Homo sapiens: one gene and its partner. The protein of the gene in region 2 interacts with the protein of the main gene of each other region in a pairwise test. Each region holds a gene or a part of one and is shown on either strand. Other genes may lie near its edges.

Evidence for each region.
Region 1: the proteins of ING4 (region 2) and NAV2 interact in binary tests that used the Homo sapiens proteins (3 or more experiments, as listed by UniProt).

What each region holds. Positions count from the first base shown.
Region 1 is NC_000011.10:19,719,337-19,722,836, reverse strand, and holds part of NAV2 (neuron navigator 2), read right to left. Parts: intron 1-3,500. UniProt on the Homo sapiens protein: Possesses 3' to 5' helicase activity and exonuclease activity. Involved in neuronal development, specifically in the development of different sensory organs.
Region 2 is NC_000012.12:6,656,620-6,660,119, forward strand, and holds part of ING4 (inhibitor of growth protein 4), read right to left. Parts: intron 181-3,500; exon of another isoform or gene 180-180; coding exon 108-179; intron 1-107.

The DNA.
Region 1 (3,500 bases), on a different chromosome or scaffold from region 2:
GCCCACTCTGTGTCTCTGTCTCCTACGCTTGGCCACCCACCATCACATGACCTTCTCAGTTCACATCCTAAGAGGGAGTTCTGCAAGATCCATCCACAGCTCGAGTTCAATATCTATTTACTACTGTTTTCCAATGCTTTCTTTTATCTCCCCTTACCCTTCTTTTCTTCTGCAAATATTAACTAAAAACTTATTATGTATAGATCCTGTGCCAGCAGGAATCAGGAGAGACACAGCCCTGACCTCATGGAAGTCATGGTCCAGCAAAATAAGCAATCGCAGTCCAAGCTGAGGGGCTAATGGCCAGGCTATGGAACACATAGAAGATACACTGTATTAGGACCATGGTGGTGGCAGAAGGCTTCCTGGAGGAGGTAACACTAAACTGATTTTGTGTGGGTAAAGTGTGGGAGGATTCAGTCAGGCAAAAGAGAAAAGCTTGCTTCCAATCATACTCCTTACCTTCTCAGTGCCTAGACCAGCAGGGCTCAGTCAGAGGTTTTAAATTTTTTTTAAAAAATTACTTCATTTAAAAAATTTATTTTGTATTTGCAACCTTGGAAACACCTTAGATTTTTATAAAAGATTACCAAATGAAACTGAATCTTGTGATTTATTTCCAGAAAATGTCAGCAACCATTCTCATGAAAGAACAAGGAATTAAGCCAAAGTTTTCACACTATACCAGAAAGAAGATAAAGAGTCCAGAACTTAAACCTCATGAAACAAATTTGGCCAGGCTATTGTGAGTACATACACACACTCCTATTTCATTTATGTTCTCATAAATATCAGGGGCATCGGTGACAAATACTATTCAGGCAGGACTTTGTTTTGTTTTTAAAAATTTCAAACCTACAGAAAAGTTGAAAGACGTGCACATATATCTTTGCCTAGATTCACCAGTTGTTAACATTTTGCATTTTCTTTCTTCTTTCTGCAGATGTTCTCACCTTATTTTTCCTAATTGAGAGTTAAGTTACTTACTGACATCAAGATACTTCCCTTCTAATATTTCAGCATATAGCTCCCAAGAAAAAGGACATTTCCTTACATAACCCCAATACCATTGAAATGGATAGAATAATACTATCTAATACACAATCTACAATCAAATATCTCCAATTTTCTCACAAATGACCTTTGTAGCATTTATGGTTTTCCTCATCCAGGAGCTACTCAAGAATCTCTCATCGGATTTGGTTGTCATAGCTTTGGTACTCTTTTCTAGAAGAGTCCTTCACCTGCTTTAAAACTTTTTCATGTCTTTCATGACACTGACATTTTTGAAGATCCCTGGCCTGTTGTCTTAAATAATGATTCATAATCTAAACTTATCTGATTGCTTCCTCATGCCAACAAGTGATTTTGAATCAAATTCCTCATTTTCTCCTTCCTCTGTCTAGAATCAGCCCGGCCAGTTAACACTCAACAATGACGTTTAGTGGGCCTTGTGGCCTCAGAGGACTTGAAATTTTAAACATCCCAAAAGGGTTCAACCAATATGATTAAGCAACTATAAGCAACTAATACTTACTTAACATTGAAAGAGTATTTTCAATATTTCCAAACTCTAGGGCAGGGGGAGGAGTCAAATGGCATATGTATTACCAAGCTAAAGGAAATTTGAAAGTGATTTACTTAGACTCAGTAGTAACAGCATTTTTTCAGATATTTTTTCAAAGTGCTTTCACACTTGCTATTTAAGAAGGTTGACTTCAAAGGTCAAACAGATAAGCGTTCAAATATTTGGGTCTACCTACCAGCTGTGCTCCTTGGAAAAGTAGCTTCACCTCTGTCAGCCCTGGTTTCCTCAAGGGCTACCTAAAGTGTAAGATGCTTAAACAGGTGCCTTGTTCACAATAATTACCTGTGTTAATCTTCATAGTAACTTCAAAGAAGGTACAGCAGGTACTATCTTCTCCATTTTATAGGTGAGGCTACTGAAGCTCAGAAAGAAAATGTGATTTGTTGAAGGTCATGTAGCAAGGTGACTAAAGAGACAGAATTAGAACCAAAGTTGCTAAGTCCTAGAGTGGTCATTTCCAGTTCTCTTCAGGAAGTAGCATCTACCTCATGGGATGTTGTGAGGATTAAATGAATGATACATATCTGGTGCTATGCATTATGCTGATACAGAGGCTGTGCTCAATCGATATCCGTGACTAGTATTATAATTATTTTTAAAGTGCCACATTGCCATGAGTAGCTAATTTTGTTCAAAGTCTTCCAAAGACCGCTGAAAGTGGGATCACAATTATCTTGACTAAGACCCCATTTCTACCCTATCCTCTGTCCCACCAAGATGAACGGAAGGATTGGAATAACCCAAAATTCACTGAAGGTGTTGAGGTTTCACTTGGAAGAAGAGGCAAAATATTCTGAGGCTGGGGGCCCATTGTTTGCAAAACACAAGAGAGGATCTGTATTCCCTGGGAAAGGGGGCACTAAGCCATGAGTCATTCTCTGGCTCTGTGTGGGCGAATGGGGGTTCCTGCAAAAAACTTTGTGTCACTCACTATTGTCTTGTGTAGATTAAAGCACAAAAAGCCTAGCTAAGTTTTGTTCCCAAAATCACATGGCCCATTCTGCCCAAGCCATTCTAGGAACACATTGTCCATCTCTTTGAAAAATGTGACCAAGAGACAGAATAGTCATTGAATTTGGCCTGTGGTTATTGGTAAAGCACCATTGGGCAGCTGGCCATGCCTTGGGGCACCTTAATGGCCAACTGATCACAAGGTCCAGCTCTCATTACAACCATGCCTGCTGGGAGAAAAAAGGGCTTTCCTTCTGCCCTCAGAACAATGAGGAACCATTAAGAAGCCCAGTCAATGAAAATGTTCCATTCTTGGTCCTGTCCTGGGCTAGGCCCTCAGATTGGCCGGCTCCACTCAACCACCTCTACAGTGCCAGTTCAGACTAGTTGTACAAAGGAAGCTTCCCACAAGTTTGGTTTGTAGCGGATCCCTCAGCTTGGTTACTGTTATAAAGATGGCATGTCTGGGACCAACCTGTGAAGGTTTCAATTAACAACTCGAGATATGACTTCTTTGGATGACGTTGTTCTTAATTTACCCATTCATCTAACCAAAGCCCTGCTATGCCCTCCACTTTCATGGTGCAAGCCGTCTGTCTTTTCATGTACTCAGCTGCGTACTTGGGAGGCAGAGAGGTAGGGTGGAAAGAACGTGAGCTTGGAATGAGGCAGACATAGTTTCCAAACTTGGATCTGACCTTAGGTAACAAAAATAGGCAATACTATATATTCCTAGCTTAGTATGTGCCATACACTGTGTTCAGGAACCTACCTGGAATATCTCACTGAACCCTCACCCCCAACCTATAAGCATCACCATTTCTGCTTCAAAGATGACAAAACTGAAGTTTAGGGATGTTCTATAATTTGCCCAAAGCCTAGATGCAAACTCTGACCTCTCAATAAAGTCGAATTTACCACGTAAAACTGCCTCCAAGTGATAACCTCCCTTGGCCTCTGC
Region 2 (3,500 bases):
GAAGCCACAGTTCTCCAGATCATACCAGATGATACGGTAACATCAAGTAGAAAAATAAATGATTACACACACTCATTAGATACAAAAACTTTTTACTCTATACATACCCTCTGTTCTTTGGTCTAGGTCCCTCATGAGCTGAAAGTTTCTCTGTAATTCAAAGGGAAGGTTTTCAATACCTAGGGAAGAGAGAGAAACAATCACAGGACTGACTATGCATAGGCCTTACAGCTCCTTTTAAAGTGCAGTTCAGGCCGGACATGGTGGCTCACGCCTGCAATCCCAGCACTTTGGGAGGCCAAGGGGGTGGATCACTCAAGGCCAGGAGTTCAAGACCAGCCTGGCCAACATGGCGAGACCTCCATCTCTATTAAAAATATGAAAATTAGCCTAGTGTGACGGTGGGCATCTCTAATCCCAGCTACTTGGGAGGCTGAGGCATGAGAATCACTTGAATCCAGGAGGCAGAGGTTGCAGTGAGCCGTGATTGAGCCACTGCACTCCAGCCTGGGCAATAGAGCAAGTCCCTGTCTCAAAAACAAACAAATGGCCAGGCATGGTGGCTCACACCTGTAATCCCAGCACTTTGGGAGGCCGAGGAGAGCAGATCACGAGGTCAGGAGATTGAGACCATCCTGGCTAACATGGTGAAACCCCGTCTCTACTAAAAATACAAAAAATTAGCCAGGTGCGATGGCGGGCGCCTGTACTCCCAGCTACTCAGGAGGCTGAGGCAGGAGAATGGCATGAACCTGGGAGGCGGAGTTTGCAGTGAGCCGAGATCGCACCACTGCACTCCAGCCTGGGCGACACAGTGAGACTCCATCTCAAACAAACAAACAAACAAACAAAAAATAAAGTGCAGCTCAGTTTTCCTTCCTCTGAACCTCTGGATTTATCTGTGACAGGATGGATCAGTTCTCTCATGACAGGCCATGCTTAACTCTTTCTCTACAAAACCTTTCCATTTCTGCATGGCTATCCCACCCTTTTCGCCTTCAGTGACCTTCCTTTATAAATAAGCTCTTCCCGTCAGGTGTGGTGGCTCAAGCCTGTAATCCCAGCACTTTGGGAGGTTGAGGCGGGTGGATCACGAGGTCAGGAGTTCGAGACCAGCCTGGCCAACATGGTGAAAGCCTGTTTCTACTAAAAATATAAAAATTAGCCAGGTGTGGTGGCACGTACCTGTAATCCCAGCTATTCAGGAGGCTGAGGCAGGAGAATCACTTGAACCTGGGAGGCAGAGGTTGCAGTGAGCCAAGACTGCACTACTGCACTCCAGCCTGGTGACAGAGCGAGACTCTGTCTCCAAAAAAAAAAAAAAAAGCTCTTCCCTTTCTTTTCCTTTTTTGTTTTTTGAGACGGAGTCTGGCTCTGTTGCCCAGGCTGGAGTGCAGTGGCACGATCTTGGCTCACTGCAGCCTCCACCTCCTGGGTTCAAGTGATTCTCCTGCCTCAGCCTCTGGAGTAGCTGGGACCACAGGCGCGCGCCACCACACCCGACTAATTTTTGTATTTTTAGTAGACACAGGGTTTCACCATTTTGGCCAGACTGGTCTTGAACTCCTGGCCTCAGGTGATCCGCCCGCCTTGATCTCCCAAAGTGCTGGGATTACTGGCATGAGCCACTAAGACGGGCCCCTTTCTTTTATTTTCCATCTCTGCCTCCAAGCTCTTTGTCCTCAAATTACAAATAGTCTCCTGGTATCCTCTATTATACACATAACACTTCCAATCTACTTCCATATAGTAGCCAGAATGTCCTTTTTAAAAAATGCAAACCTGGCCAGGCACGGTGGCTCATGCCTGTAATCCCAGCACTTTGGGAGGCCCAGGTGGGCGCATCAGCTGAGCTGAGGAGTTCAAGACCAGCCTGGGCAACATGGTGAAACTCTGTCTCTACCAAAAATACAAAAACTTAGCCAGGCTTGGTGCACATGCCTGTAATCCCAGCTACTTGGGAGGCTGGGGCACAAAAATCCCTTGAACCTGGGAGGTGGACATTTCAGTGAGCCGAGATCACGCCAATGCACTCCAGCCTGGATGACAGAGCAAGACACTGACTCAAAAAAACAAAAACAAAAACAAACACAAAAATAAAAAATGCAAACCTAATCAAGTCACTCTCCCGCTTATAACCTTCTGGTCACTTCCTACTGCTCTGAAGATGTTCTGCGCTTTCTGGCCCTTGCTTACCTCACACCAGCCTGAACTCATGTCAGTCTCCCTTTGTGCTCTGCTTTGCCCATACTGGCCTCCTCGCACTGCCTCAAACTGGCCTGTGCTCCTCCTGCCATTTGGCTTTCCACATGCTGTTCTCTCTAGTTGGAATGCACCGCTCGCTTTTCCTCATCCCATCCACCCCATCCCTCTTGGCCTATTAAATTCCTGTTCGTTCTTCCAAAGTTCAGCTCAAACTCAACTTTCCCAGACTCTGTTAACTGCCCTCGATCTATGTCAAGGTATTCTAGCCACCTTTTTAAAGCACTTATCCAACTGTAATTAAATAAATGTGTAATTAGTTGGCTGGGTGCGGTGGCCCATGCCTGTAATCCAGCACTCTGGAAGGCAGGTGGATCACTCAAGGCCAGGAGTTCAAGACCAGCCTTGGCAGCCTGGCAAAACCCCATCTCTACTAAAAATACAAAAATTAGGGCCAGGCACGGTGGCTCATGCCTGTAATTCTAGCACTTTGGGAGGCCGAGGCGGGTGGCTCACTTGAAGCCAGGAGTTCAAGACCAGCCTGGCCAACATGGTGAAACCTGTAATCCCAGATACTTGGGAGGCTGAGGCACAAGAATTGCTTAAATCCGGGAGGTGGAGGTTGCAGTGAGCTGAGATCGCACCACTGCACTTCAGCCTGGGTGACAGAGTGCGACTCCATCTCAAAAACAAAACAAAACAAAAATTAGGCCAGGCGCGGTGGCTCACACCTGTAATCCCGGCACTTTGGGTGGCCGAGGAGAGCAGATTACGAGGTCAGGAGATTGAGACCATCCTGGCTAACATGGTGAAACCCCGTCTCTACTAAAAATACAAAAAAATTAGCTGGCCGTGGTGGCGGGCGCCTGTAGTCCCAGCTACTCGGGAGGCTGAGGCAGGAGAGTGGCGTGCATCCAGGAGGTGGAGCTTTCAGTGAGCCGAGATCGCTCCACTGCACTCCAGCCTGGGCGACAGAGCGAGACTCTGTCTCAAAAAAAAAAAAAAAAAATAGATGGGCATGGTGGCCTGTGGCTGTAGTTCCAGTTACTCAAGAGACTGAGGCAGGACAATTGCTTGAACCAGGGAGGTAGAGGTTGCAGCCCGGGCAAAAGAGCAAGACTGTTTCAAAAAACAAAAAAATTAAAAAAAATAATGTGTAATTAGTTATTTGGTATCTGTCTCCCCAGGCCGAACATGGCTATCATATTCTCTCCTGTTTCCATAGTGTTTAGAATTATGACTTGCAAAGAGCAGGTACTCAGTAAATACTTGAATAAATGCATGAATATTTGTCACCC